4 separate regions of the Homo sapiens genome follow, and regions 1, 2 and 4 are each linked to region 3. Evidence: fine-mapped expression QTL. A gene starts in region 3. Each other region holds a variant in brackets. All regions are shown on one strand. Distances are from middle to middle.

What was found.
Region 1: its variant is fine-mapped to the expression of ZNF608 in thyroid (GTEx, PIP above 0.99).
Region 2: its variant is fine-mapped to the expression of ZNF608 in whole blood (TOPMed, PIP above 0.99).
Region 4: its variant is fine-mapped to the expression of ZNF608 in whole blood (GTEx, PIP 0.96).

Annotation. Positions count from the first base shown.
Region 1 is chr5:124,595,903-124,604,011 of GRCh38, reverse strand. No RefSeq gene overlaps it. Among named protein-coding and RNA genes, the nearest start is that of ZNF608, 150 kb to the left of the region's middle. RefSeq lists an enhancer at 4,146-4,205 and a silencer at 4,309-4,523. The variant C/T (reference allele first, on the strand shown) is at 4,260.
Region 2 is chr5:124,828,128-124,836,236 of GRCh38, reverse strand. No RefSeq gene overlaps it. Among named protein-coding and RNA genes, the nearest start is that of ZNF608, 86 kb to the right of the region's middle. The variant A/G (reference allele first, on the strand shown) is at 3,189.
Region 3 is chr5:124,741,773-124,749,874 of GRCh38, reverse strand. ZNF608 (zinc finger protein 608) reads left to right here and starts at 3,236. Exons shown (of 10, transcript NM_020747.3): 1 at 3,236-3,680; 2 at 4,703-5,791. The coding sequence starts at 4,886. RefSeq lists a silencer at 879-1,118 and enhancers at 998-1,996, 2,124-2,303, 1,997-2,995, 5,035-5,104, 4,944-5,637 and 4 more.
Region 4 is chr5:124,855,670-124,863,778 of GRCh38, reverse strand. No RefSeq gene overlaps it. Among named protein-coding and RNA genes, the nearest start is that of ZNF608, 110 kb to the right of the region's middle. The variant G/C (reference allele first, on the strand shown) is at 3,325.

The DNA.
Region 1 (8,109 bases), 150 kb after region 3:
ATGAGGGAAAAAACCCATCCCCTTAATAAAATTATTCCAACACAATTGGTATTTTTAAAAAATATATGTTGTCATCAAGTCTCTTTTGTATAAATCTGTTTTTACATAGATTTGTAATCATGCTTTTTTTTAATACTTAGACATATTGCTGGATTTTTTAAATCCAGTTTTCATAATTATTATTTAAAACAGCTGTATAACAGTTCATGAAATAGATGGTTCATCATTTATATACAGAGGTCTTCCTATTTTTTTAAATTTAAGTTTTTATTGATTTTTACATATATATAAGTAAACTATACTATCTTATTACTATATATTATGTGAATCATATTGCCATATATGTTCCTATACTATATAATATTGGATTATATTAATTCACATTACTTTCTCCTTGTTTTAAAAATGTCCTGAGGCTAGAGACCTGCAAGTGGATACACTGGGTTAATGGGTATGGCTAATCCATAGCTTTTAATACACATGCCAGATTGCTCTCCAAAAGGGCTGAGCCAATTATGAATGAAAATTCCAGTTTCAAGGCAATCTAGCTCCTAATCTTTATAACTACTTTATCCTGCAACTTAGGGAGAGAAGCTGATGAAGGACCAGTTTTTTCCATGCTCTGTGAAGAAGAGAATAATGGTTGCGAAATCAGCTTCAAGTGATTATTAGGAGAGAAAATTGACATCTTTCTCTGATAAGGCAAATTGGATAACACATTATGCCTAGATGTTATACTATTTACAGTCTTAGTCTCTATTGTGTTTCTATTGCCTCTTCATATTTTATAGGTATGTGTTATTTTATTCATAAAGATTTTGATAAAGTCATACTTTTATAGAAAAGTTATTCAAGTGTGGAAGCATGTGTCAGCCTCCAACTCAGCTGATTGTATCATTTCCTGCTCAAAACCCTCACCAGACTCCATTACTTACTAAATAAATTCTGAATTCCTTATTCTGACACTTGAAGTCCTTCATTTTCTGGCCTTAAGCTTCCTTCCATCTTTATCTCTTACTAGAAGTTCTCTACACAGCAGCCAATCAGTGATTCTTGCTATTCCTCAAACAATACTTCTTCCTGCTCCCTATCATGGGTTTCACCTTTCCTGTCAAAATTTCACTTGGATTTCAAGGTGTTTAGAGTCATGCCCTCCCACAGCTTTTCCTGATTCCTGACATGTTTCTCCTCCCAAGTGCCTGTAATTTCTTCCTCCTCTGGATCATGGTGAAAGTTTTGCTTCTCTCTTAAAGCATTTATCACATTCTATCTCATAGTACTTGTGAACTTGTCAAATACCATTAAGTTGTAATATTCTTGATGGCAGAGAAACTTCTTATTTATTTGTTAACTGCTCACAATATTTATCAGTGTGCCTTACATATAGCAGTTTCTTAATAAATATTTGTTTAAATCAAGTATATAGGTTGGACCCAAGAGACCCCAATTAGTGTCCTGATCTACCGCTTAGTAGCAGCTATCAGAATATAGACATAAAATCTCAAGAGGAAGTAATTAGACATCTATACTTACGTGATAACTGATGCAAACAATTCTGACCCTCAAGTGTTTTGAGATCTTCAAGTGTGTTCCGAATCATCAAAGATAAAATGATCTGGTAGACTCTTTCAGGTTGCAAAACAACTAATATATATCCAGGCTACTTCAATTAGGCTATATATTGTAAGGATTCAAAAGGAAATGAAGAATGATTAAAAACAATCCATTTCCCACACTGCCCCAGCTCCTGGAGGACCAGAATTTTTACCTCTTTTCTAGTTTCTCCTTGGCTCCTCAGCACAGGACCCTGTTGCTCCCAACTCCTGAACTTTGCCATTATGGAAACTAAGCTTCCGTTGGTCTTTGCTACCACTGCTGTCAAGATTGACTTTGTCATTCAAGTGGAAGATTTGACTGGCCAGCCAGTCCCAATCTACTAGTGCCGTCAAGCCATCTGTGGTTGGACCACAGTCTACAAGGCAGCCAAACGCCAGAGTTTTTAGACTGGGGTCCCACTTGTGTCCCACTGTGGCCCAGCTAGCGGTGTTAGGATGACTGTGAAAATTGTGCAAATTCTGGCCACTTATTCACCTAAGGAATTGGACATGAGACTTACACTCCTGGCATTAAATCTCTTAAACAGGTTTAGTTTTTGACTGTTAAATTATTTTCTAATTTTATGAAGTTGGTAATTCATATGTTGTATATAATCTTTATTAAACCTGAATTTTATGTCAGTTGGGACTTTGTCCAATTTTGACAGGTGTTAATGGATATTCTGCTTAATAATAAGTACTGGCCAGGCACAGTGGCTCACGCCTGTAGTCCCAGCACCTTGGGAGGCTGAGGTGGGTGGATCACGAGGTCAGGAGATCGAGACCATCCTGGCTAACACGGTGAAACCCCGTCTCTACTAAAAATACAAAAATTAGCTGGGCGTGGTGGTGGGCGCCGGTAGTCCCGGTGATTCAGGAGGCTGAGGCAGGAGAATGGCGTGAACCCAGGAGGCAGAGCTTGCAGTGAGCCGAGATTGTGCCACTGCACTCCAGCCTGGGCGACAGAGTGAGACTCCATCTCAAAAATAAAATAAAATAAAATAAAATAAAGTGCTAACTTTGCCAGGCACGGTGGCTCACACCTGTAATCCCAGCACTTTGGGAGGCTGAAGTTGGTGGATCACCTGAGGTTGGGAGTTCGAGACCAGCCTGACCAACATGGCGAAACCCCATCTCTTCTAAAAATACACAAATTAGCTGAGTGTGGTGGTGGGTGCCTGTAATCCCAACTACTCGGGAGGCTGAAGCAGGAGAATTGCTTGAACCCGGGAAGTGGAGGTTGCAGTGAGCCAAGATCGCACCATTGCACTCCAGCCTGGGTGACAGAGCGAGACTCCATCTCAAAAAAAAAAGTACTAACTTTATCAAGCACTTACCATTGCAAATGTGTCTTCTTTCATCTTCTCAAGAACTCTGTAAGATACTTTTTTATCCTCATTTCATAGAAAAGGCTCAGAGAAGTTTATTAACTTGTGTACAGTCACAATTAAGTCATAGAACCGGGATATGACCTTAAGTTGGTTGGGATGAAAACCTGTCCATGAACCACACTCAAGCATGGACAATGTAGAATTTGAATTATTATTTTATTTTTATTTTTATGTTTTTAGAGACAGAGTGTCTCCCTGTCACCCAGGCTGAAGTGCAGTAGTGCAATCATAGTTCACCGCAGCCTCAAACTCCCAGGCTCAAGCCACCCTCCCACCTCAGCTTCCTGAGTAGCTGGAATTACAGGTGCTCACCACTGTGCCCAGCTAATTTTTAAAATTTTCTGTAGAGACAGGGGTCTCGTTATACTGCCAGGGCTGGTCTTGAACTCCTGGGCTCAAGTGATCCTCCCGCCTCAGCCTCCCAAAGTGCTGGGATTACAGGCGTGAGCCACGAGCGGAGTTTGGATTATTTAACCCTCATTTTTCTCCAAGTAGAAAACATAACAGGTTTTATGTAAATTTTAACTTTTTCATATCTCAGGGTGAGCCTGGATATTTTGCAAGTGAAATGAAGAGTAAGTATCGAGGCTCAGGAAGCACACCCGAACTTCAGTGTTGTCAATATTCCTGCTTATTCCACCGTGACAGGTTTTCTCCCCACCCTTCACATTTTTATTCTCAAATATTATATGGAAAAAAATGTGCTCTGCACTATGACAGAGCTTTATGCTAAAGGGCTTTCAAGAGAGTTAGTAGAGAAGTAACTTTGCTCTGTGTTTAAATAGCTTTCCTGAAAATATCACTCTGCTCAAGCGTTAGTGTTGCCTTTATAAATATATACAAAACCATTGGAACAAATGAACTTAAATTTGCAAAACTTCGAAGAAAAAATAAAACATGATCAGATCGCTCTTTTCATTAGAAGCTGAACTGGGTTCACAATTGCATTTCCAATTCAATTAAAAATGTAAAATTCACTGCAGTCTCTCCTACAATGTTGTACTCCTTTTATCTGGAATTTCAGGTTTCTTTTTTCTGTTTCCTGGGATTTGCAAAGTAGCAAAATCAGCCAGTTTACATTTAAGATGTTTTGATTCTTTTCTCAGACTCTTGCCAGTGTACTTAACACAGAATGATTAAAAGCTGTGTGTTCTGTTAGAACTGTTATAGTGTTTAAACAAGGAAGTCTGTGTTTGTTTAAGAGAATGGGGAAATGGTTATCTTGACAGATTAGACTGAAAAAACAGGACAGCCACAGTCTAGAACAGATGTC[C/T]ACATTTGCCACTTGGCTGGCTTTTTGAGGTATACTAAACAAAACTTGCTTGTGTGCTTGTGCCTCTGTTCTGCTTGACACCTGACTGAGGAATGTGATTAAGAGCTACTGCCAGGGCCTGCGTGCCTCTGTGGGCAAATGTTCCCAGGTTTGAAATTTCTCAGCGTCTGTTTAACTATGTCATAATTAAACTAATGGAACACAAGAGAAATTTCTCTAACGGGCTTAAAGACCCCGTTCAACTGCAGTTTCATCTCACATCACACACGGTTCCCGTGGCTTCACTGAAAAGTTGAAATGAAGCTGAACAGAAGCTGCAGGGTACACCACATTAATCAGTCTTTTAAAAATGTGATCTTAAAAACTGGATGAAACATCAGTGGCAGTTGTGGTTTAGTGGGAATAGCACTGTATGAAAATTCAGGAAACCTTAATGCAAGCCCTAACTCTGCCATTTACTATTACAGCTGTTTGATCATGGTCAAGTCCTCACTTAACCTTTCTAGGTTAACGAAGCTATTGTTGATGATACTGATGACAACAGCTTGTGTTTATTAAGCCCGTATTCTGTGCCAGGCAGTGTTACAAGCTTGACACGCAATACTCCATCATACCCTCAAAAAAGCCCTGAAAGGTAAATACAGTTAGCTTTGCTGTTTCCTATGGAATCTCAGCAAACTAAGAACTTTGCTCAAAGTCAGATATCTAATGCGTAGCATACCAGCTAGGGTGTTTCCCAGGTCTAACAATTATACTTTATTGGATTTCTGTCTTTTCAAGGAGGATCTCCAAGGTAATTTCCATTTGTAAAATTCAATATTTGTGAAATCTGAACATATGAAAATCACTTTAAATATGTCAACAAATAAAAAAGACTCAGACTTACCCTTTTATAGTTGTGGTTATGCATAGATATCTACATTGCCTCATTGCACAGTTTACCATAAATATTAACATATAATTTTTAAATCAAATTTATGAAAGTATAGAATAGCCTCACTACATGGTATTTGCTCACTCAGATTTGGGGAGTTTAAACCTCTGGAATGTGGGATTATGACTTTTTACAGAGGAATAAATTCAAATTATAGTGTACAGTGTAGGACTTTGAGATATGCTTGCTAGCTCATATAAGAAATGATCAATTTCTTGGTCACTGTCTTTGTTGTATTTATTACTATTTATATAACTTCATTTTAACTTTATAATAATATGGATGATATTTAAGTATATTTAGTCTGTATTTAGAAGTTATTCTACTGCAGCTTTATTGGTAACAAAGAAAGAAAGGTTTCCATTGGCTTACTTTAAATAAGTAAGATCTTTTGACTTATCTCAAATATATTCTCATGTGGTATGTGAATATATTTTCCAAAAACCATGACAGCACAGTTTTGTTGTTGTTGTTTTGTTTTGTTTTTGAGACAAGGTCTGGCTCTATCACCCAGGCTGGAGTGTAGTGGCACAATCTTGGCTCACTTCAACCTCCACCTCCCGGGCTCAAACCATCCTCCCACCTCAGCCTCCTGAGTAGCTGGGACTACAGGTGTGCACCAGCATGCCCGGCTAATTTTTGTATCTTTTGTAGACATGTGGGGTTTTGCTACATTGCCCAGGCTGTTCTCAAACTTGTGAGCTCAAGCAGTTCACCCACGTCAGCCCCCAAAATTCTGGGATTACAGCCGTGAGCCACCGTGCCCGGCCAACAGCACAGTTTTTATTGAAAATATAAAATTTGAAATGTCAAAGTAGCAAGTGGCAGTCCACTTCTTCCCTGGCTGTGTTGTCAGTGTTACTGGGGTTACCCAGGTCTTTGGCAGACCAGACAGGATTATGACCATGGATTCTACCGGCTTTATTCTTAGAGACTAGCTAGAGCATCCCATTAATGCAAAGTCTAAAAGACTGGTTTGAAGAATTAAGCATGCACCAATTTTATATATCTGTACATATTTATTAATCAAATAAAATGTATTTAATAATTACTTCTTGTGCAATTATTTAAATGACTTATGGTAGTGTCTAAGCTCCTTTAATCTTTACCTGAAGACAGTCAGCCTGGGTAGCTTCATTTCTAGTCCTCTTGCCTTACTTTTACTTCTTTTGGCTCTAACCCTGCTCCCTTGTAAATCTCATTCCTAACATTTGGAACCACCTTTTACTCTACATCTGCTATTTTTCTCTCCTACCACTTCTGTTCAGGATAAATATCTTGAAATTCTAACCTCAGCCGTCAATGGATCAAATGATGAAAGGACTTATCCAAAAAGCTATTTTGTTTACCACAAAAATAAGAGGCCATTTCTCCCCAAAGAGGAATCTATTGTTTTGTCTTATCTCCTTTCGAATGAAAGAATTGAACAATTGAACCAGCAGGGCCACTTGTTTATCCCCATGCTGACACAGTGCCATGCAGTTGATATTAATAGATAACAAAGGAATTTCAGCGTAATTACTTCTTACATACATTCTTGGCCATGTGTCATGTAATTTCCCTGGTTTGATTTCCCCAGGAATTCCTAACGCTAGGAATTTAGATTAGTTTCTGCTAACATTTAAGATCACCAAATTGAGGCTGTGATCTCCATTTCAAACATAGCTCAAAGATAAATACAAATAATGAGCTTCAATATGTTGAGTCATGGTTAGGAAAAGTGAGGTCCAAATCTTCAGAGGCTGTTTGTCTAGGATGAGTCATGTGGTCTGCCCCTTCCACAGCTGAGCATTTACTCCGGTGAAATCAGGTAAAGCAATGATCTGAGACAGGCCACAGAGCAGTCTGTGAGGTAGGGGTGAGTGAGGCATGCCTGGGTATTTGAGTTGATTTATGGGGGACTTGTGTGTTTATGAAACTCGTGGGTTTTTGGGTTTTTTGGTTTTTGGCATCACTGTCTAGACTGCTTCCTTCTTCCTGCTCCTCACCCCTTTTCCAGAACTAGTGCTAGCTTGACTACTGTTGATCCATGGATTGTGCATGCAAAGCTCCAGGCCAAAGATGTTCACCAGGGTTTAGAGATAAACAATTTAAAAAATATATCTTTCAAGCAGTGCTTCACCCACTTGGGTTATCTGTGAACCCACTTTTCTAAAATTTACCAAATCTTAAAAAAAGTTGACCTACATTTTAATTTAAATAAATGTATTATAGAAGGAAACAAGATATCCCATGCTATAAATAGGAGACTCCATTCAAAACTGTGGAGACAAAACAATGGAGTTTAGACTTTAAATGCTAAAAAGGATCTGAGTTTGAGGCCTGTTCTCTTTTTCTGAAAGAGATGTCAGGGTTAGAGAGGTGGCAACCGCATACCAGTGCCAAACTAAAACTTTCTCCTTGGCTGGGTGTGGTGGCTCACGCCTGTAATCGCAGCACTTTGGGAAGCCGAGACAGGTGGATCACCTGAGGTCAGGAGTTCGAGACCAGCCTGGCCAACATGGTGAAACCCTGTCTCTACTAAAAATATAAAAATTAGCAGGGCATGGTGGGTGGGCGCCTGTAGTCCCAGCTACTGGGGAGGCTGAGGCAGGAGAACTGCTTGAACCCAGGAGGCAGAGGTTGCAGTAAGCCAAGATTGCGCCACTGCACTCAAGCCTGGGCAACAGAGTGAGATACCATCTCAAAAAAAAAAAAAAAAAAAAAAAAAGGCCAGGCGCAGTGGCTCACACCTGTAATCCGAGCACTTTGGGAGGCCAAGGTGGGTGGATCACAAGGTCAGGAGATCAAGACCATCTTGGCTAATACGGTGAAACCCTGCCTCTACTAAAAATACAAAAAATTAGCTGGGAGTGGTGGCATGCACCTGTAGTCCCTGCTACTTGGGAGGCTGAGGCAGGAGAATTGCTTGAACCC
Region 2 (8,109 bases), 86 kb before region 3:
CTCTTGTCGCCCAGGCTAGAGTGCAATGGTGTGATTTCGGCTCATTGAAACCAAAGCCTCCTGGGGTTCAAGTGATTCTCCTGCCTCAGCCTCTCTAGTAGCTGGGATTACAAGCACCTGCCACCATGCCTGGCTAATTTTTGTATTTTCAGTAGACACAGGGGCTCATCATGTTGGCCAGGCTGGTTTCAAACTCCTGACCTTAGGTGATCTGCCCACCTCAGCCTCCCAAAGTGATGGGATTACAGGCGTGAGCCACCGCACCCAGCCCTTTTTGCTTAGTCTTGCTTTAGCTATGCAGGCTCTTTTTAGGTTCCATATGAATTTTAAGATTTTTTTTTTTTTTTTTTTTTTTTTTTTTTTTGGTGAAGAATGATGGTGGTATTTTGATGGGAATTGCATTGAATCTGTAGATTGCTTTTGGCAGTATGGTCATTTTCACAATATTGATTCTATCCATCCATGAGCATGGATGTGTTTCCATTTGTGTCATCTATGATTTCTTTCAGCAGTGTTTTGTAGTTTTCCTCGTACAGGTCTTTCACCTCCTTGGTTAAGTATATTCCTAAGTATTTTATTTTATTTTTTTGCAGCTATCATAAAGGGATTGAGTTCTTGATTTCATTCTCAGCTTGGTTGCTGTTGGTGTGCAGCAGAGCTAGTGATTTGTGTACATTAATTTTATATCCTGAAACTTTGCTGAATTCATTTATCAATTCCAGGAGCTTTCTGGAGGAGTCTTTAGGGTTTTCTAGGTATACAATGAGATCATCTGCAAACAGTGACAATTTGACTTTCTCTTTACTGATTTGATGCCATTTCTTTCTCTTGTCTGATTGCTCTGGCTAGGAATTTCAGTACTATATTGAATAGAAGTGGTGAGAGTGAGCATCCTTGTCTCGTTCCAGTTTTCACAGGGAATGCTTTCAACTTTTCTCCATTCAGTGTTATGTTGGCTGTGGGGGTTTGTCATAGATGGCTTTTATTACATTGAGGTATGTCCTTTGTATGCTGATTTTGCTGAAGGTTTTAATCATAAAGTGATGCTGGACTTTGTCAAATGCTTTTTCTGCCTCTATTGAGATGACCATGTGATTTTTTTTCTAATTCTGTTTATGTGGTGTATCACATTTATTGACTTGTGCATGTTAAATCATCCCTGCATTCATGATATGAAACCCACTTGATCATGGTAGATTACCTTTTTGATATGCTGTTGGATTCAGTTAACTAGTATTTTGTTGAGGATTTTTGCATCTATGTTCATCAGAGACATTAGTCTGTAGTTTTCTTTTTTTGTTATGTCCTTCCCTGGTTTGTGTATTAGGGTGGTACTGGCTTCATAAAATTATTTAGGGAGGATTCCCTCTTTCTCTATCTTGTGGAATAGTGTCAATAGAATTGGTACCAATTCTTTGAATGTCTGGTAGAATTCAGCTGTGAATCCATCTGGTCCAGGACTTTTTGTTGTTGTTGTTGGTAATATTTTTATTACTACTTCAATCTCTCTGCTTGTTATTGGTCTGTTCAGGGCTTCTAATTCTTTCTGATTTAAGCTAAGAGGGTTGTATCTTTCCAGGAATTTATCCATCTCCTCTAGGTTTTCTAGTTTATATGTGAAAAAGTGTTCATAGTAGCCTTGAATGATCTGTATTTCTGTGGTATCAGTTGTAATATCTCTCATTTCATTTCTAACTGAGCTTATTTAGATCTTCTCTCTTCTTTCCTTGGTTAATCTTGCTAATGGTCTATCAATTTTATTTATATTTTTCAAAGAACAAGTTTTTTGTTTCATTTGTCTTTGTTTTTTGTTTGTTTGTTTGTTTCAATTTCATTTAGTTCTGCTCTGATCTTGGTTATTCCCTTTCTTCTGCTGGGTTTGGGTTTGGTTTGTTTGTTTCTCTAGTTCCTTGAGCCATGACCTTAGATTGCCTGTTTGTGCTCTTTCAGACTTTTTGATGAAGACATTTAAGGCTACGAACTTTCCTCTTAGCATTGCCTTTGCTGTAAGTGTGATAACATTTAAATGTGAGATCATAGATATGTTACAAAGAAGGATAAATTTGGGGGAAATTTTCTGTATATGAGGATGCTTTTTTTAAAAATATTACTTATGTGCCTGAAAGGCCTGAGGTATTAACCTAGAGTAGACTTGAACCTCTGAAGGGACTTAAATGTATAGAAAAGATAAGAGCTGAGTCAGGATCAAAGTGTAACATGGATGGCCAAAGGCCCATCCTACCCAGAGATGGAGCTAAGCAAAGGCCACTCAGAGAATTCCTGTGGCCAAATTGCAGGGAACACAGTGTGGGGACTGCATATCTCGTAATTTTTAGTACCTTCTGATTTCAAATGGTTTGTCCCATTTTTCCTTTAAGGGCATAAGCAATAAATACACCATTTTCTTTCCAAATATACAGTTTGTGTAGTGCTTGGCTCCCTTGATGTTGATGTTTGCTTGAATTTAAAATAGGTGCCTGTAGGGCTTAGGAAGGCAAAGATTCCATTTGTCCTGGGTCCTGTAGGAATAAAAAAGTAGTACAGGCTAGGCTACATGGATGGTGGAAGTGTACACTGGCAAAAATAAACAATGACATCAAGCATCTGAATGTAGAGCAGTGATCCTCAACCCTCACTGTGTAGCAGGGTCTAATACTTGGTGCCTGGCACCTGCACTCTACTCCCGCTAAATTCATGTTCAGTTGCTCTGTAATGAGGCTCAAAACCTTCCTTGATATGGTACCACTAAGGAGCTTCTTAGAAATGTGGAATGTCAAGGCTCCAGCCCAGATCTACTGAATCAGAGTCAGTATTTTAACAAAAACTTCAGGTGATTTGTATGAACATAAAAGTCTTGCCAGACATCATGGCTCATGCCTGAAATCCCAGCACTTTGAAAGGCCCAGGCAGGGAAGACTCCTTGAGCCCAGGAGTTCTAAACCAGCCTGAGCGACATGGTGAAACCCCATCTCTAAAAAAATATTAAAAATTAGCCAGATGGACTAGCATGCACCTGTAGCCCTAGCTACTCAAGAGGCTGATGTGGGATAACTGCTTGAGCTCAGGAGATCAATGCTACAGTGAGCCTAGATCATACTACTGCACTCCAGCCTGGGTGACAAAGGGAGACCCTGTTTGAAAACACAGAAAAAGGAAGGAAGAAAAGAAAAGAGAAGGAAGGAAGGAAG[A/G]AAGTTGGTTAGTTTGAGAAATACTGCTGAAAGGGATCAGAATATGCTAACCCAAATATGCTACTTTAGCGTAAGGATTATTTTTAGTTGAAGGCAATTGAGAAACAGCAGAAACAGGAAGAGCTCTCTGCCCTCCCCCTTTCTGTCTAAAAGCAGGGCATAGATTTCCTTTGTAAAGATGTTCCCTTCTTTCTACAAGGAAAAAGGGAGCAACTCCAGAGACAATTCTTATCACCAGAGACAACCCAAGTCTGCATAACAAACTTTACAAAACAAAACTTATCTACATTTCCTAGTCACTTTCACAATTTATCACACTTAGGATCCCAAATCCCTTTTTCCTTTGTTTAGTCATTTCTCCACAATTTATCACCCTTTGTTAAAATGGTATATAAGTCACCAGGTCTAACCACCTCTTTGGGTTTTCATTTCTTTTCTGTGAAGCCCCTATGCAAGTAAAAATGTTCACAAAATGTGTATACCTTTTCTCCTGTTGATCTTTTATTAGTTTAATTATAGGCCTCAAGCAAATAACTGAAGACAGTAGAGGAAAAGTTTTTCTCTCCTACACTACTTTGGGAGATGTTTGTGACCTGGAAAGGGGTTTAATGATAGGAAATGCTTGTAGGTTCTCTTTAATACTTTAAACTTGTGCCAATTAGGAGGCCACAAAACATTTGTGTCTGATCCACTACAGGATTATTTACTAGGAAATTTCCCCCCACACTGGAGTACAGTGAGGACTTCAGCTGAATGTATATATTTAGCACTTCAAACAGGCTAAGATCAGGGCCCAGGAGCCAGCAAAAATGGCAGTAGTTGAACAGAGCTCACCTCTGAATTTAGAACAGAGGCTGCTATCTTTCTACTATTTTAGACTTCCTGCTGGCTAAGATCATCCCTTAGCCTAGAGGTATTGATTATAGCCAGAAATAAATCAGAGACTTCTATGCCTGCTTGAGTTAAGAGAAATCAGACTTCACACTCTTGACAGCTCTGCTGGAGCTGAGGTCTGCACCCAGCCAACACAAATCATTTATAAACAGAAATGAGAAGGCACTCTCACAGCATGGTCACAGTCATGGAAAGCATTAAGCTAAAGCAGAGGCTCAGTCCCAAAATTAGCAGTGTCAGCATCACCTGGCCACTCCCAGACCTACTTAATCAAAATCTCAGGAGGTTGAGGCCCAGTAATCAGAGTAATTAGAGTTTTAACCAGACCTCCAGGTGATTCTATTGCAAGCTAATTATTGAGAAGGAAGCTTCTTCCCATGTGTACTGAGCCTTGGAACTTATGTACCAGGCACATTTCTAAGCATATTAACTCATTTAATCTTCACACCAGCCCTATAAGGTGGATACCATTTTTATCCCTTCTTATAGATGAAGACAGTGAGGCTCAGAGCACATTTTACATCATTTTACAAAACTGAAACCAATCAAGTGCCTGGCACTGTGGTGTACTAAGCACTTGGGCACAATGGGGAGCAAAACTCATATAACTGTTCTAGTGGAACCCACAGGCTAGAGTAGCCACTAAGGATATAATCAAACAAACAAGAAGTAAGAGACAAATTGTGTTACATAAAGAGATATCTGAGCCATAACAGTGGTCCCAAGGTTGCCGTCTCACATAGGCAGCAGATCGCTGCTGGCTAGTGGTAGGAAGCCTCAGCTCCTCTCCACACTGGGTCTATCCACAAGTCTATTTGAGTGTCCTCACAACATAAACAGCAATTTAAAAGAAGAAGGTGGAAGCCAAAATGCCCTTTATAGGGCTGCCAGGTTTCACAAATAAAACTACATAACACCCAGTTAAATTTGAATTTCAGGTAAATAATAAATGAAGTGTTAGTATAAGCATGACACATGCAATATTTGGGACACACACTAAATTTTTATTATCTGAAATTCAAAGTTAATTGGATATACTGTATTTTATCTAAAAACCCACCCTTCATTACCTAGGTTCAGAAATCATACACCATCACTTTTGCCATACTTAATTAGCCATGCTGAGCAGCTGTGATTCAATGGGAGAGGAAACTACACAAAAGTGTGGACACCAGGAGGTGAAGATGACTGGGGGCTACTTTGGAGGCTAAGACACCAGATTTGCTACCTGTCACCAAAGGGTTTCTCCAGGGAGCCATTCAGTTTCCTCACATTTTTCCCCAAAAAGGAGTGATCATTCAGCATCTATGATCACAGCATTATGGTATCAAGACACAAAATAAGAATAATAAGAGTAATTCCCCTGAAGGAAGGGGAAGGTGAACAATTTAAGCTTTTCTTGAAGCCACTTCCTCAACAGTGAGATCAATGTTTGCATGTGTCTAATTTTAATATCTATTCAAAATTATATTTTTACCTACTATGCAAAAGGCTTCCAAACAATAGGGATGCTTTTCTCTTTTTTTTCTTTTTTTTTTAATTTGAGATGGAGTCTCACTCTGTTACCCAGGCTAGAGTGCAGTGGCGCGATCTCGGCTCACTGCACGCTCTGCCTCCCGGGTTCATGCCATTCTCCTGCCTCAGCCTGCCGAGTAGCTGGGACTACACGCGCCCACCACCACGCCTGGCTAACTTTTTGTATTTTTACTAGAGATGGGGTTTCACTGTATTAGCCAGGATGGTCTCGATCTCCTGACCTTGTGATCCATGTTCCTCGGCCTCCCAAAGTGCTGGGGTTACAGGTGTGAGCCACCATGCCCGGCCGAGTGATGCTCTTCTTATATTCCCTTTATGGTTTGATTGATGATCAATGTGGGTATTTTTTAATCACCTTCTATGTGGACTTTTTCCTCCCTCTTAAACAAAACAGTATGTCGCTTTTCAAGATCTTTAAGTCACTACAAACCTTTATTCTCTTGGCTAATAATATTGTGAAATGAAAGACTTAACATTTTCATAATATGAATAACATAATGTATAATGTATAGAATTTTATCAGCTGTTTCGACTTGGAAAGCAATTGACCAGAAGTAGAAATATTAACCAGCATTTCTTGAGTATTTACTAACATTAGGGAATTTTTCATGCCTTTTAAGCCTCACTGAAAATCTGCAATGTAGGTATTGTAACTTGATTTTCTCTTCTCGCATTACAATTTACCCCACTAATAGATAAGCTGAACACATACATCATTCTATTAAAATATTTAGAGATCAGTATTTAAATACCTGCTTCATTCTGCCCAGCTATAGGCATTAAAGAAGAGCAGGCCTTGAGCCAGTCAGAGCAGAGGTGTGAAATGGCAGCTAGGTTTTTATGGTAAGATTGACCAGGTTCTGAAAATCAAGATGTCAAATACTAGAAAAGAATATGGCAGCAAGAAATAGTTTGATAATGGGCAAGATACAGGCTGAGGTGGGCGATCATGAGGTCAAGAGATCGAGACCATCCTGGCCAACATGGTGAAACTCCGTCTCTAAAAATTATCTGGGCATGGTGGTGGGCGCTTGTAGTCCCAGATACTCAGGAGGCTGAGGCAGGAGACTCGCTTGAACCCAGGAGGTGGAGGTTGCAGTGAGCCGAGATTGCGCCACTGCACTCCAGCCTGGCAACAGAGCAAGACTCTGTCTCAAAAAAAAAAACCCAAAAAACAAGAAAAAAACCTTATATCTCAACTCCTGCAAAAGTGTTCTTTGCCTATTTTATATTGGATTTTATTGTGACTAATTCTGAAAGCTCTCATTCATTGAGCATATTACATATGTAAGGCACTGTCCTAACTGCCTACCTATGTAGGCACTGTCCTAAACAGGGTGCCCATATATAATCCTAATCCTCACAAAGGCTCTTAAAAAATGGCTTTTTCCCGCACATGGTAAAACTGTTTCAGAGATGCAAAGTAACTAGCCCAAGTTTTCAAAACTGTTCAGTATTATAGTTGCAGCATGACCAAATGTTCCAATGCAGAGTTCTTGGTCACTCTAACTGGTTGTATTCATATGCCAGATCCTTCTGAATCCAAAGCTCGTGTTCTTTCCATTACTCAACAGTTTCTTTGTTGAGTTGTATAGTATCTACTTACCTCCCACCCCCATTACAGCAATGCTTAGCACAACACTTTACATAACAACACTAAGTAGATATTGAATAAATGAAGGGATGGATGAATGGATAGTTTCTATAAATAGAGTTGTGTAATGATAATACCTACTAACTATATTCAGTAGTATGGGTAGGAGAGGTTACAGTCATAGGGCTTAGATATCCTGGGGGTTTGTGTGTGTGTGTGTGTGGTTTTGCTTGTTTTGTTTTTTTTGTCCCATTAGCTTTAAATAGAAAGCTGTTAAATGTGCTGGTAAATGCTAACAGCCCTTGGGGACAAGAAAGGATAGATGTTTACAGTGTGGGAGGATAGACAGTTCGAGTTTTTGTGTTGCTGATTTCCCATCTATGATGGTCAGTTTCAAGCTACCAAGGCAATGTCATTGCACACAGAGTTGGGGAAAGATGAAGCAGTACACCATTATATTACATTTCTATCATACACTTACAATAGATGGAGATAACCTCAAGAACATGGAAATAATTAAGAGGTGGTCGATTTTAATATATTATCTTTGTTTTAACATCATTTATTTAATTTAAAACTTGCATAATCTAATTTTGAAGAATGACTGTGTTTAACAATCAGCTCACCAAAATCCTAAAAATGGAAAATCAGTTCGTAGGAACAATCCATTGCACTAGTTGGCATGCTCCTGGTCTACGTAGTAGCCCTACAGATTTCTCCCACTGGAGAAATTACTAATGAACAAGCTGGTTCAGGCCAGCCCTATCATCATACCTGAACCAAAAAAAAAAAAAAAAGAGGAAACTCAATAAAATCCCTCTGATATAGAAAAAGAGCAGGGCATCCCTACCAGAGATAAGTACCAAAATCATCTAGGTGAAACTTTAGAGGATTTTA
Region 3 (8,102 bases):
TCATGATGCCCCCTTCCCCACCAGTGGGGTTAAAGATATGGGGGAAGAGGAATTCTGACCCTTCCACAGTTTAAATACGTGTACTGGGACTGTTTAACAGTTAATCTTCCTAGTACATTTAACTTTCATAAGTCGATTTTTTAAAAGATGAGGCTGGCCCGAGGTGTTACTATGTTTAGCTGGGGCCTTATTTTAATATTAAGTTTTTCTTTTTTGGAGTCACATAACACCAGGTGGAAAAGATTTGTTACTAATTCCAGGGAAGAACCATTCACATAGTGTTGGTTAAATGGTCGCCTGCGTTCACACTTCAGTGCCTGTAGACCAGAGCCCTGGAAACAAAAGGGTTACTTGTTTCCCCACCATCGCCTTTACCCGCAGATCGATTTTTCTTATTTAATCAGCGAGTAAAAAGAGAGACACAGGGAAGAAAAAAAAAAAAAACTGCAGGAAGGGCAAAGTGGTGGGGGGAGGGTTGAAAGCCAGAAGCTGCAATACAGAAAATCAGTCTTGGGAGTTGGGCTGCGAAGTCCTTGGAACAAGGAAGGGAAGCCGGCAAAATGCTCGCAGTCAGTTCCACACAGCCAGCCTCCCTTTTCTCTTCGCTACGCGCTAGCGGCTCGTTTGGCTTCTCTCTGCCACCGAGCGATCACATACATTATTTCCCCCAAGATAACACAATCAAACTTGTATTTACCGACATCCTCTCCTCGCAGCCTGTTTGAGATTTGTTTTAATAAATAAGTGTTTTATGTGAATGATGTAGTAATTGAAAGGGGCGCACCATTTTTTTGCCTTCTTACTGCGGGAGGTTCCTCAACCCCAATCTGGTTGGAAAATAAAACGCTTTGTCTCCACAACCACCCCCCACAGCACCCCCACCCGCTCTCAGTGTGTGTTTTATACGTGTGTATATCTCAACCCCCTACAGTAGCCAAGAGAAAGCAGCTAGCCAATGAGAGAGCCCAGTTTCATAAAAGCTGCTCTCTGATTGGCCCGATGCGAAAGGGCACTGGGAACAAAGAAAAGTCCCTTTCAGGTATAGAGGCTGAGAGCTTCTTTTGCTCCACTCCCCCTGTGTGTGTGTTGTGTTTCAGTCCTGATTTAGTGTTGCAGAACAAGCTTGTTGTGTGTGTGCACCAGGGGGATTTTTGTTTTGCTTTTTTTAAATTTTAATTTTTGCTTTTATAAAAAATACACAGGACGGTCTGTGACATTTGATGGTCCATCTTCTTTAATAATAAATTTGTTGAAGAGATTATAATTTCCAAAATAAAGCGGCTGCAACCAAACACATTCAATGCAGTTAGAAGGAAAAGGTCAACTCGATCCAATACAGACCGTAAGTACGGTTGCGTGGTGTGTCTCTATATAGCACTTAGCGGGGACTTCATGCAGGGGAATGTGCGAGTTTTATGCATAGAAATGAGGAACTAGTTACAGGGTTTGGCTTTTGCATTTAGAACAACAACCCAAGAAGGGTGAATTTTATTCAGTGGAGGGTGAAGCATTTGTAACTTCACACAAATTAAGCTTGACTGGGCACTCGGGGTAACTTAGAGGAAATTAGCTTTTGGGCTCTAACCCAAAGGAGAATAAAAGTGACACAGTTGCATATCCTGGTCTGCAGTGTCAATTCTCTAGCTCACCTTACTCCCTCCCTCTTCTGTCCTAGCTGGGCAGACCCCCCTCCCAAAGCGATCCAGGAAAATGGGGGCAAGGGCAGAACAAGCCGATTTCTGTCTCCTGTCAGATCCCAGTGCCCGATAATTTAATATTAAACAAGGGAATAGTCACTCATTACATGTAATGGTTATAATTACCATTCGCCATCTCCTTAAAAAAGCAAGCAACAAAAATACCATTAAGAGAAAAAATAAAAGCCCCACCCAACCCAAACAAACCCACAAATAGTAACAATGGTGTATTTATTACAGGACCAGGCTGGGGAGCAAGCAAAAGGTTTTTCTTTGTTTAATACATGAAGTGGGGGTCCCTAAAATCCAAGTAGCTCGGAGATACCCTTCTCCCTCCCCCAGGCGTCCCCGTCCCTGGCCCCTTGGGAAAGCCGACAAATTGGAGATAAGTTGAGGAAAGGTTTATAAAGTGTTTCTTTAAAACATCTGCTTTGCTCTTGTGCTCATTACATTTCGCTCCTTCCGAACTTCGGAGATCCTAGATCTCCGAGAAATGTTTCACATTCATAACTTGTAGCTTCGCCCACTGCGGGGGGGCGGGGGGAGGAGGTTGGGGGAGTGTGTGCAGGGGGAGGGGAGAGACTTTCAGCTTTTTTTTTTTTAAAGACCAGATCAGTATTTTCTTGATACGCTTGTCACCATTTTTGTTCTCACGACAACCAATTGAGCCCTTGATCCTCACGTGATGTGAAAGGCTTGCACTGTAACAAAATCGCTCCTTTTAGATGGTTGGTTGTTACTAACTCGCCCATCCCCCTCTCCCAGCCCCGACATTTCCAGCAAAGCGACTCTCCACTTCCAATCCATCAACAATTCATTACTGCTTTTAGCTTCCAAACGCCAGCTAATTAAAAATACTAAGCCAAGCTCCGGGGCCATCTGACTAAACACAGGAGGGGCTGGGCGAAGGGAGAGGAGAGAAAAAATAAATAAAAGGGAGACACACCGTTTGCTGCGAGTATAAGAGGGAAAAACTCCCGAAAAGGGTCGCCTTAAAAAAAAAAAAAAAGAAAACAAAAACCTTATTTTGACTCTAATTATCGAATTACCACATGACTGGCTGACCTGAGCGACAGAGGATTCCACTCCCCTCGGGAGCTATACTAGGAACTCAGTTCCTTTTTCTTAAAACAACATAAGACAGGAAAACATCACATCCTTTAGGTTTCGAAGACTGAGCCCATTTTAAACGCCGTTATTTTCCCCACCCCACCGCCCCAAGCCCCCCGCCCCCCGCCCCGAGCGAATGCTGTTATAACTGGTTTATCAGCTCACTGAATCATCTGCTGTCTCCTCCTCCACACCTTTCTTTTTCTCCTCTTGCCCAGTTTCTCATCCCACCCTTTCTTCTCCTCCTCCTCCCTCTACTCCCCCCCTCCTTTTCTCTTAAGTTAGTTCAAGAAATCAAATCTGTCAGGACGGGCGGAAAAATGCCACTTCCCGACTAACAGGCGGAATCCAGCCCAGATTTTCAGTCCTTTCTTCTTATTCTTTCTTCCCTTTCACTAATTTATCCCGATGTTAGCACATTCTGTCTCGTTACTAGCGGACGCCTGTAGGTTTGCTACATGGGATCATTACTGATCACGGTGACTCTGAAGTCTGGAACTGAAGGCGGAATGAGAAGTTGGGAAAACTTTTTTCTCTAAACTCTCTGTTTTTTAAAAAACTATTATTCTCGATGCTTGTTAAGAGGAAAAAAAAACCTTTGGTGCTTCTGTTGTGAATGTGAAACATTATTTTCCAGCTGTACAGTGACACATTTTTTTTAAGGAGAAAAGGACTGATTCGTTTGCCAAAAGGGGGGTGGGGAGGTGGAATAATGTTATCGAGTGATTATTCTGGCTGAGATGTGTTATTTGGTTTCTTCCTTCTTGATCATTTGGTGTTTAAGTAAAATGAGGCACAGGCTTGTTTGCCGAGTGGAGTGGGAAAGGCATTTTGATTTGCTGGCCTAATTAAAAAATGATAAAGGATTAAAAGGTAAGCAATGTCTGTGTGTGTGTATGTGTGTGTGTATGTATATTTATTTATTTTTTTCTTGACAATCAACTGTTAAAAAGGGGCTGATCCCTTTAAAAACCGTTTTAACTGCTCTTTGTCAAACACACTCATTTGCGGTCATTGAGGCCACCTTGGCGCAGATCACTTAAAGTGTATGTCTTAATCAGTTTTCTGTACAGTCAGTAGCACCGTATTTAAGAGAGTGAGCAATTCTCTGACCTAGGAATATGGTAGAATTGTTTAAATGTATTTTTTTCTCAAAAGGCAGGTATTTAACTTTTTATATAACACTGTCTTTTCTAGAGAGAAATGCTCTTAAAAGACATGCATATTTCAAAAAAGAAATTGTAGAAGCTGTTTGGGAAAAGAGGATAGGAGGGAGGTATGTGTGTGTGTTGGGGGCAGTTATTGGTTGTTTTTTCTGTTCCTTACTAGGAACAAAAAACAGATTGCCCAGACAATTTGTAAAAAGAAGTACTGAAACCTAAATTAGAAATAAGGAAAATTTAGCAACATTCTATTCTGAAAACTAGCCTCAGAACTTCCAGGGTCTGGTCTTCTAAATTGCAAGATCTAGGACATGTTTAGGGATGTTTAAAGCTGTGTTCTTCCTTCTTGTCTGAGTGTTCAGGCTGTGTTTCTGGGGTTGAGATATCACATGTGCCAGACTGAAATCCTAAACTTTAAAAAAGAACACAAAAACCTTTCTGGACTTGAATCAGATCCTTAAGATAATTTAATGCTTTTAAAAAGGTGATTATCCTTGTGTTGTTGATAAAGGGATTTTCTTTTTAGCTACCGTAAGATGCTTACTGTCATAGGTTTATTTTTCGGGTTTGGTTATTTTCCTTTAAACCTGATATTGGACTGTGAGGACAATACATGAGCCACCTTACTCTCCATCCTTCCCTGTCCCCTTTACTGATTCCCCAATACTAATCGTTTTTTATTCTGGTAACACCCAGACAAGAAATATTCGACTTTTCCCCCCCCCTTCACAGGAAAAGGTGGACCTGGACTGAGGGTGTAAAATCCCTGGACACATTCGTGGGGCAGGAAAAAGAAGAGGAAGATTAGAAGATTTTTTTTTTCTTTGAGAGAAAGCCCAGCGGAGATAAACGAATGTCCCCTCATCTCCAAAGAAAAGTTCATCGGATTTTTATTCTAGAGAGCTCATCTTCAGGATGTCAGTGAACATTTCTACTGCAGGAAAAGGTGTGGATCCAAATACAGTTGATACTTATGACAGTGGCGATGATTGGGAAATCGGGGTTGGAAATTTAATAATTGATTTGGACGCTGATTTGGAGAAGGACAGACAGAAATTTGAGATGAATAATTCCACCACCACCACTAGTAGCAGCAACTCCAAGGATTGTGGAGGTCCGGCCTCCAGTGGGGCTGGTGCTACCGCAGCCTTAGCTGATGGCCTAAAATTTGCTTCTGTTCAGGCCTCTGCTCCCCAGGGGAATTCACACAAAGAGACCAGCAAATCAAAAGTGAAAAGGAGTAAAACTTCTAAGGATGCTAATAAATCTCTGCCTTCTGCTGCCTTGTATGGGATTCCCGAGATCAGCAGCACTGGCAAGAGGCAGGAAGTCCAAGGGCGCCCTGGAGAGGCAACTGGCATGAATTCAGCGCTGGGTCAAAGTGTGAGCAGCGGCGGCAGCGGCAACCCAAACAGCAATAGTACCAGCACCAGCACCTCTGCCGCCACCGCGGGGGCAGGCTCCTGTGGGAAAAGCAAAGAGGAGAAGCCAGGTAAAAGCCAGAGCAGCCGAGGCGCCAAGCGGGATAAGGATGCGGGGAAATCCAGGAAGGACAAGCACGACCTGCTTCAGGGCCACCAGAATGGCAGTGGCAGCCAGGCCCCTTCCGGGGGGCACCTCTATGGCTTTGGGGCCAAGAGCAATGGAGGTGGCGCGAGCCCCTTCCACTGCGGGGGCACTGGGAGTGGCAGCGTCGCCGCTGCAGGGGAAGTTAGCAAAAGTGCCCCGGATTCAGGGCTCATGGGAAACTCTATGTTGGTAAAGAAGGAAGAGGAGGAGGAGGAGAGCCACAGGCGAATCAAGAAACTGAAAACTGAGAAGGTAGGATAAAGTCGCCTTCCTAGATGTCCTACTCTCCTCTGTGTGCATTTGTGTGGGTGTGTGGGGGTGTGCCTCTGTGTGCCTTACACTTTATGCTTTCTGGTTCTTTGTGAGATTTCTATGATATGCATCCTTTATATTAAAATTTGATATGGGGGAGCCTACTTGGGTGCAGTGTTTGGCTCTTGCTTCTGCTGTCCTTGCTGCTGCTGCTGCTGCTGCTGCTGCTTGTGATGCTAGTGTTTGGGTTCCCAGGTGGGAGGGCCTGAGTGTTCTAAGTACCTTTTGCCCTGTAGATCGGTTCCTCACTAGTCAGCAGGTTGCCGTGTGCTTTTAATAGAAAACCTGCTCATGCACCCTCTTGACTCTTGTCCTGCTTTCTTCCTTAAGGGGAACAGTTTTCTATTTTAATTTATTCATCCTAGTATTGCGGGTAATGTGTCCTTAGGTGCAAGGTTCAAGTTCCCTCCCTGGAGAGGAATGTCGAGGATTCGAATTTACATTCTACAGACCTCATCCCTTTTATTTTTTCTTACTGTCTCCAAAATAGTACTGTGAAAGGATATCCTTGAATGAGTTCTTGTTATTGGTCCTGAATGAAACCCCAAGCTTGATGTGTTGGGTCATTGGTTTCATAACTGCAGAAAAACTCGATGGTTTTGGTGGCTGTTAGCACTCTACCCCTGTTCCCTCACCCAGTTCTTAGCTAGAGATTTAAGAGTGTTATCACTTGGATACCTGACTGGGGAGCTGGACGGCTGCTAAGAAGAATAAAACAGACTTGCTGGACTGATACTCGTGAAATGTGAAAATGTAGCCAAAGGGGATGTAGACGGTTGAGTGAATTGGAATATAGAATTATGTGCTGCATTTAAACGGTGTGGATGGTTGATTTAGACCATTTGGACCCTTCTCCCCTTCTTTGTACAAGTCTATAGTTAGACACTGCCTTGGAAGAACTGCCTGCCCCGACACCCACACCATGTTTTGCTGCTTAGTCATAGACCACATTGACTAATGTTTGGGAACAGAAGGTGTTCTGTCCACTAGGCAGGTTGGGAAGGAGTTAGGGGTGTGTGTGTGATATTTCTATGAAATTAATCTTCATATTAATTCTACAGGTTGTGCCTTGCAGAAGCAAGCTTTCTGTCATGTGGGTTGTGGCATGGTTGTTGGGGAACATCCTTATTAAATAATTTTGATTTTTTTTTGCTATAGTTGGCGATTGGGATTGTAAGTGGTGATAATATGTCTTTGGAGAATTATTTCTGTGTAAAATGGTTCACTGCTACTTAAACTTTTATATTCTTGTTTTTGTGTTCAGGATTTAAGTTGGAGTATAGGAGTAAAGTTTTGATTTTTAAAAGTTGATAGAGGCACATTAAGGTGTAGATAATGCCAAATTTGCAAAATGCCTCCAAACGCTTATAAATTCATATCCTCTTGGTCAGGTACATTAATGAATATAAATGAATTTTTGAAAATTCCGGGTTTTGAGTCTTATATTTAAATGTGTAGTTTCACATTATTTCCGCTAAAAGGTGTTCTGAAATCTTCTTATTACTTAGTACAGTAGGGCATTTACTTTTGTTGCCAATAGTCTTCAAATTGCAGTTCTAATCTGCTTTAACTATCTAGATGAATTGCCCTAATCCAGTGCTCACAATGGCTGTGGTTAAGGAGTCAGAGCCATTTGATTGGATTCACTGGCTGCTTGGAATGTGGGAGGTACTGCCCTTTTGCATTCCCCTTAGCCTTTTAATCTTCCAGCCAAATGTTCACATTCAACAATTTTGTTTAGCTGGCAATCGGAACATTTCAGTATCTAAAAGGCTGCTGTCATGGCAACTGAGATTAGAGCGTGGTGTCGTTTCTCCAGTTTTTGTGTGTTCTTTTCACTTTCCAGTCACAGAGGAAACTGGGTGAAGAATGGAAGAATTAAATTATTCATATACATGCAACTCATCTTCAGTTAGAGCAGTATAAATGTGATAAATATGAATTACATAAATGAAGAGCAAACAAGTCATGGTGGATCTGGGGTGGGGGAGGGAAGAAAGCACACTGCAATTTAGATTCACTTCTGATCCTATACCAGAGGAAGCTGTGCCACCAATCTTAGCCACTGGAGTTGGCACAGGGGCCCCTCAAAGGCTTGGATCCAGGGGCTTGGATCCTGTAGTGTTGGCCATTCTCTGTCAAGTTGGGCGTTGGCTCAGGATCTCAAACATTATTCCTTAAGGCTTTCCTCCCCACCCCCACTTCACCCTGAGAATGACTTCTCTTAAGAATGCTTTCATCCTTGGCACAC
Region 4 (8,109 bases), 110 kb before region 3:
GCCTGACCAACATGGAGAAACCCCATTGCTACTAAAAATACAAAATTAGCTGGGTGTGGTAGCACATGCCTGTCATCTCAGCTATTCTCGGGAGGCTGAGGCAGGAAAATCGCTTGAACCTTGGAGGCAGAGGTTGCTGTGAGCCAAGATTGTGCCATTGTACTCCAGCCTGGGCAACAAGAGCCAAACTCTGTCTCAAAAAAAAAAAGGGGGGGGGAGGGAAGCAGGCACTTGCCAAAAAGGGCAAACATTAGAGGTGTCCTCACTTTGTAACTACCTGCATTCTTGGTAACTAACCCAGTCCCTTGAGAGTGAGAACTCACTCTTGAGACAAAGGCATTGAGACCTCTTAATGACCTAATTGCTGTTTTTTTTGTTTTTTTATTTTTTTGAGACAGAGTCTTGCTCTGTTGCCCAGGTGGGAGTGCAGTGGCGCGATCTCGGCTCACTGCAAGCTCCACCTCCCAGGTTCATGCCATTCTCCTGCCTCAGCCTCCCAAATAGCTGGGACTACAGGTGCCCGCCACCACGCCCAGCTAATTTTTTTTTTTTTGGTATTTTTAGTAGAGATGGGGTTTCACCATGTTAGCCAGGATGGTCTCCATCTCCTAACCTCGTGATCTGCCCGCCTCGGTCTCCCGAAGTGCTGAGATTACAGGCGTGAGCCACCGTGCCTGGCGCCTAATTGCCTTTTAAAGGTACCACCTCCCAACACTGCCACACTGGGGACCAAGCCTCAACATGAATTTTCGTGGGGACAAATCATATTCAAACAATAGTAAGGTCCAAACTAAAGCACTAACATGGGCAATAAGTATTTTCCTCTGAGTGGTGCATGGAGGAAGAACTTCATGTTTATCAAGAGTTATTATCAGTTGGCAGGGACAGTTGACAAGGTTTCCAACTGCACCCTTCTGTATGCCACTTTTCTCCCTGTAGTGGGAAGATTTTCCACTGCCCACGCAGGGTGTCATTTGGCAAACTGTCCCCCGTTCTTCCTTTTATATTTTTTTCTTTTTAGAGACAAGGTCTTGCTCTGTCACCCAAACTGGAGTACAATGGGATGATCTTCGCTCACTGCAACCTCTACCCCACAGGCTCAAGCAATCCTTCCACCTGAGCCTCCTGAGTAGCTGAGACCACAAGCACATACCACCACAATCAGCCAATTTTTAAGTTTTTTGGAGAGATAAGGTCTCCCTGTGTTGCCCAGGCTGGGCTCAAGTGATCCACCCACATTGGCCTCCCAAAGTGCTAAGATTACAGGCATGAGCCACTACATCTGACCACTGAGCCACCAAGCCCAGCCATCCTTCTTTCCTCCCTACAACCCACTATGCCTTTTGTGAACCAGATAATGCCACTGTTCTGCTCTCAGCTAATGAGAACAGATGGGCACATAATCCAAGGAGGATCAGTCTACAGATTGGCTAGGTGACCAGTGGCCTATGATCCAGGTTTTGGATTGCAAACGTGAACAGAACTAACTGGACTCCTATCTCAGGACATGAGAATCAGAAAACTGTTAATGAATCATGGAGCCACCGAAGAAGTGGGCAAAGATGGTACTAAGAATGCTATGAGATTGTCAGGTTTGGAAAGGACACTGTAAGCCAAAGTTACATGCAAGCTGAAATTATGAGGGAAAAGAGAAAGTCATATATTAGAGAAAAAATGCATCAGATACACAGGGAGAAGTAGATACATCTTGTGAGATGACACAGTCCATGAGGATGATGGCAGAGCTGCTTGCAAGAGCTGCCTTTGTGTCTAAGTCTTGCCATTTCAAGGTCTCTCCATGTATTTCTTTACCAATAAACCCTTTTGTTGAGTTAACTGGAGTAAGTCTCTGTCCCTTGCAGTTTAATAAACCTAATTGAAACTCTCTCTTCTATTGTTTCTTCTTCTATATCTACCATCTTCCAATGTCTCTTATTATCCTTCTAAGCCCCTTTCTTTCTTTTTTCTTCTTTTCTCCCCCATGCCTCATCCCTACCTATGCCTCAGGCATACTGCTAGGGCCCATCCTTATAGAAGACCCTAAAAAATGGAAAAGAAATAACACAGCAGTCTGGATATTTTTTAAGTGGCAACTTTATTGAGATGTGTATCATAATTCAGTATTTTAAAGTATACAATTTAGTGGGTTTTAGTATATTCAGAGTTGTACAGTCATCACAACTGTTTAATTTTAGAACATTTTCATCATCCCAAAAAGAAATCCCATACCCATAAGCAGTCATTCTCCATTTCCTCCTCCCCCTAGTCTCTGAGAACCACCAATCTACTTTCTGTCTCTACAAAGTTGCTTATTCTGGGCATTTCATATAAATACATTATGTACAAAATACAATAATTACAATACATGAGTAGCTTCTTTCACTTAGCATAATGTTTTCAAGGTTTTTCCATGTTGTTGCATGTACGAGTACTTCATTTCATTTCATCATTGAATAATATTCCATTGTATGGGTATACCACATTTTGCTAATTCACTCATATGTTGATAGGCCTTTGGGTTGTTTCCAGTTTGGGGCTGTTATGAATACTCCTGCTGTGAATATCTGCATACAGGTTTTTGTGTAGACATGTTTTCAGTTATCTTTGGTATATACCTAGGAATGGAATCGTTGGGTCATATGGCATAATGCAATATATTTAGTTGTCTTTTTGCTCCCCTTTCCCTTCTGCAGACCTTTGGCAGGTTTTGCAGCTATCACTCTATTATTTTCTTTATATTTTCTTTGCACGTTCCTGTTTTCAGTACATCTTTCCATTTTTCTCTTCTCTCTACTTTTCCTTTTATCTCATTATTTGAGTACATTTTTTAAAAAAACTCATCCTTAAGTAGCTTTCCCTGATGGCTTTTATTATATTTCCTTTACAATATTTTTCTTCTCTCTCCCTGTTGCTGATAATGCTTGAATAAACCCAGCTTCACCTAGAGGGAAATAAGTATCATGTTAGATACTTATTTCCCTCTAGGAATAGAATGACTTGAAGTAGTTCCGTAGAGTAAGAACTTCATAAACAGAAGCACATATTTAAGGGTGCATAGACAGAAGACTACAGTAGCTCATATTTAAATGACCATTGTGGTCATATTTTTATTCCTGTATTTGCCAAGTCTGACCACAAAACTTGATGTTGACCTGCAGTCTCTTCCATCCATCCATCTAAACAAACTGCAAATACAATGTGACTCCCAGGTAATTGCTGCGCTGCTGCTATAGGCTATGTCACCATCAGCAGTACTAACCCTTTGCCTCGGGCACCATATGAACAGTGACAGGCGAATCACCCTGATGAGATGAAGAACTCTAA[G/C]TGGATTGAGGGAGGCCTTTGACTCATCCCAGCCCCACAGCTTCCCACTCAGATGTGCTCTTACATTATTCCCACTGTAAACTCAAGTCAGAAGCCGAAAAGCACCAATTTTGCTCAGGGAGATGATTCAGTATTTTTAAAGTTTTTGACTGCTGACCAATTAAAAACCAGATGATACTGTTAACAACCTCTAAATAAGCCACGATTTAGAACCATAGAAGGCACCAAAGCACCTACCAGCCCTCCATGCTCAGTGTGAGTTTGAGAGAAATTCAAAGATAATTACAATGATGAGGAGGATGCTGATGACCTTAGGGATACTGGGCATGACTCACATCATTAACTGGAAAGCAGCAAATTCTGTTTCCTAAATATATCTCCAGTGAGCCTCCTATTTACTCCATTTCAGTATTTTTTTTCAAGATTCTGAAATAGTATCCATTTCCAGTTAATGATTTGACTGCTGCCCAATGTCCCTAAAGCCTTCACCATCATCTTTACCATTGTAATTATCATTGAATGTTTTTATACTCATACTGGGTACGGCTGCATATTAGATGAAGTAATGTGGCTGATTTCACATGTAACTTAAAAAGCATAGTTTCATCCATATTTAGTCAAACCACGTAGTTTATGCTATTGAAAATCTACCATTACTAAGACATTTGTTAACAAGCACTTTGCTAAGCCTTTCAGTCTGTGAATGGGGAAGTTGACACATTTTTCAAAAGGGAAAGCCACACAAGCTCATATTCCTAAAATTCATTAATATCATCATTTTGTAAAAGCCATTGGAGATTTTTCAGGACAAGGAGTGACATAAAGAAGCCTGATCCCCAAATTGGTTGGCATTGCCCTTAACTTACAATTTTGAATACTATTCATTGTGTCAGGCAATAGGACTTTTGAGGGTATGGTGGATACGAACAGTAATGAGTTTTGCTTTTATTTTAATTTTTGTGCTCTTTATTATCCAATATACCAAACCCCTTTCCAAATAAAGAGCTGGTGCCAATATCAGTCAGGGATTTTCTATCCATGAGTGTATTCTTATTCCTGTGTGATCAGACTTCAGAAAGAGTTCTAAAACAAGCAGTGCTGGTGGTGCTGGATTTTAGAGCAGAGATGCTATAAAAAGTGCACATTAGAGAAGTTTTGGATAACACAGCATGATGCAAATTGCTACCATACGCATCACTTACTGGAACCACGCCGATCTCAGCAGAGGGGACAGGAGTGACATCACCAGCACTGTGACTTGAACCACCCTCAGGAAAACACAGCTGATGGGACAGCAATGGTTGTAACAGCACAGAGACCTAGCAATGCACGCCATGTGAGACCAATCAAGAAGCAGTTGCTGGAGTTCTCAGTTTCATTTCTCAAATTTTATAGCTAGACCACATAAAAAAATTTATAAGAGAAGCCTGGGACATTTGGAGGCAATGAAGGGAAGTGGCACACTGAGCATCATTTTATTTTGTTCTTATCAGGTAAGAAATCACCAGAAATGAAAGCTTTCATAGTATCAGCGTTAATAACAAAATGACCTGTACAACAAGAACAGTTCAAGGGCTACTCTGTCCATTTCCTATGCCAAATAGCTCTTGCATTAACACTCTTGCTCTCTTCCCTAAAAGCTCACAGTGTTGAAATTAGAGAAGCCCCAGGGGTTACAACAGGCCAGAATACTGGGACAGACCATATCTAAATGATGCCAGACACTGAGAAATGCTATCAAGGACCAGCATTTTAAAAAATACCTAGAGAATTATCGAAATTTGTTCTGGCTTATTTTATTTTATTTTATTAGTATTTTTTGAGATAGTCTTGCTCTGTCACCTAGGCTGGAGTATAGTGGTGTGATCTCGGCTCACTGCAACCTCCACCTCCCGGGTTCAAGCAATTCTCTTGCCTCAGCCCCCCAAGTAGCTGGGATTACACGTGCACACCACTACACCCAGCTAATTTTCATATTTTAGTAGAGATGGCGTTTCTCCATGTTGGCCAGGCTGGTCTCAAACTCCTGACCTCAGGTGATTCGCCTGCCTTGGCCTCCCAAAGTGCTGGGATTACAGGTGTGAGCCACCACGCCTGGCCCTGATTTATTTTAAATTTAGTGTCAGCTCTCTGGCAATCTCAACTTCTCCTCTTTCTCAATCCAGTGGTTGGCTGGACATTCATTCTCTTAATACTCAGATGCAACCACTAGCTGACCATGAACTGACTCTGTTTCCTTTTGTTCAAAAATATTTATTAAATACGTTCTATGTGCCAGGTACTGACTAGGTGCTGGAGATGAAATGATTAACAAAACAAACATGATCCTTGCCCTCATGTTGTTTATATATTTACTTGTAGGGGAAGAGTAAGGGATATCAACCGAGTGCCACTCAAAAATGTAAGTAGGAACCACTGTTGTAGGAAAACAAAACAAAACAGGTGTTATGAATGAGTGTATGGGAGGAACATGCTTGGTCAGGGAAGACCATACCAGGAAATAGAACCAGATACCTCTTGCCACCTTCTCTTGTAGTGGCATCATCCATGATCCCTTCGTTCTATTGCCAGGACCATGGCAAGAGCCTTTGAAGCAGATTTTCTGATTCACATCCTTATCCCCAACTAGTTCATTTCCATATAGCAGCCAGAGGGAGCCTCCCAAAATGCATGGGAGGTAGTTTCTCTTTTTTTGAGACAGAGTCTTGCTCTGTCATCCAGGCTGGAGTACACTGGCGCAATCTCAGCTCACTGCAACCTCGCCTCCCGGGTTCAAATGATCCTTCCACCTCAGCCTCCCGAGTAGCTGGGATTACAGGTATGCACCACCACACCTGGCTAAGTTTTTTGTATTTTCCTAGAGATGGGTTTTCACCATTTTGGCCAGGCTGGTCTCGAACTCCTGACCTCAAGTGATCCACCCACCTCGGCCTCCCAAAGTTCTAGAATTACAAGAATGGACCACTGCGCCCAGCTCATGGGAGGTAATTTCCTTCCCCTGCTTGAACTTGTAGTGTAAAGATTAAAGTCCTTTCATGGCCTTCAAGGCCCTAGAAGACCTGACGTCCTGCTATCTCTCTGCCCTCATCTCCAACCACTGTGTTTCTGCCACACCGGCCTCTTTGTTGTTCTTCAAAAGACCGAGACTGACCCTTTCTCAGGGCCTTCCAAATTGTGGCGCCTCCTCCAACAAAGCTCTTCCCCCAGATGTCTGCAGAGTGTCCCCTTCACTTAACACAGACTCTACTGAAATGTCACTTTGCCAGGTCCGCCTTTCCTGCCAATCTGTATAAATGAGGAGCGTCCCACCAGCACTCTCAGGCCCCCACTCGGCTTTCATTTTCTGTACCATACGATATATTGTGTTTCATTTACTTATTGTCTGTTTTTTCCCACTAATGTGCAAACTCATGAAAACAGGGAGCAAACTATGAGGAAAAGCTGAGCAGAGGGAGCAGCGTGTGGGAAATCCTGAGACAGGAGAGCTTGGTGTGCTGAGCCACTGACAGCATTGTGGCTTTATGATTTATCTGGAACCACAGGTGCCTCCAACTCTGAGAACTGATCAAGGGCTTGGACAAAAGAGTGAAAATACCACTAGGAAAAAAAGAGTCCCCTCTGTGCAAAAAGAAGTCCAGATACATAGAGGAAGAGAGGGAACAAGAAGAGAGAACTCAACTTCCACTGCTCAGCAAGGCACAAAAAAGATCATGCTTTAAGAAAGAAATTCTCATTAAATTTCATGATTATTGTTTGTTCTTTATTTTCCTGATAAGATCAAATGAAAAACACCTGCCTTTAAAAAAATTCCTTTGAGAAAGTTGGTTAGGAGAGATAGTTGCTTTAGTATGACTCAGTAGCCCACATTTTCAATATCTCTCACCCAGTCTTCATCATTGCCAGGCACTTGTTAAGTTTACAGTGCCATTTTTTATGATAAAAGTTAACAAAAATGTATCAGAAATGAATTATAATCATTTTATTTAACTATTTTTTTCTGGGTGCACTGTGCATTGAACAAACATTGAGTATCTACTAAATGCCAGGCCCTGGGTTAAGGTGCCAGGGACACGGGGACTCTGCCTTCAAGGGACATCCTGGTCTACCAGCAAGTCAGGTAAAATACCAAAGATAACAGAATTGGTGACAAGGCTACGACAGGTAAACTGATCTCGTAAACCTGAACTGGAAGGAGAATCAAACATAACACTTCCTGAATCTTGAAACAGGAGCAAGCATCACTAAGGCCAAAATTGGGGGAAGACTCTTACAGGTGGAGAGAGCCAAGGAGCAAAGCTCTGAAAACACCAGAGAACAAGAAGTCCTAGAGGCCCGGTGGCTCATGTCTGTAATCCCAGCACTTTGGGAGAGTAGTACTTTGGGATGGCTGGAGGCCAGGAGTCTGAGACCAGCCTGGAAAACATAGTGAGACCTTGTCTCTACTTAAAAAAAAAATTAGTGGGGTGCAGTGGTGTGTGACTGTAGTCCCAGCTACTCAGGAGGCTGAGGCAGGAGGATCACCTGAGCCCAGGAGTTTGAGGTTACAGTGAGCTATGATTGAGCCAATGCACTCCAGCTTAGGCAACAGCAAAACTTTGTCTCAAAAAAAGAAAAGAAAAGAAAAGCCCTAATGGAGGAATCCTTTAATTATGTGCATCAGGGACAGGCCATTAATGGGCTGTAATTTTAAAAACCAGTTAAAATGAGGGAGCACACAACACGCACACACACAAAAGTGTACACTTCCCTCAAATATTTAAATACTCATTAGCCACTTTAAAAGAC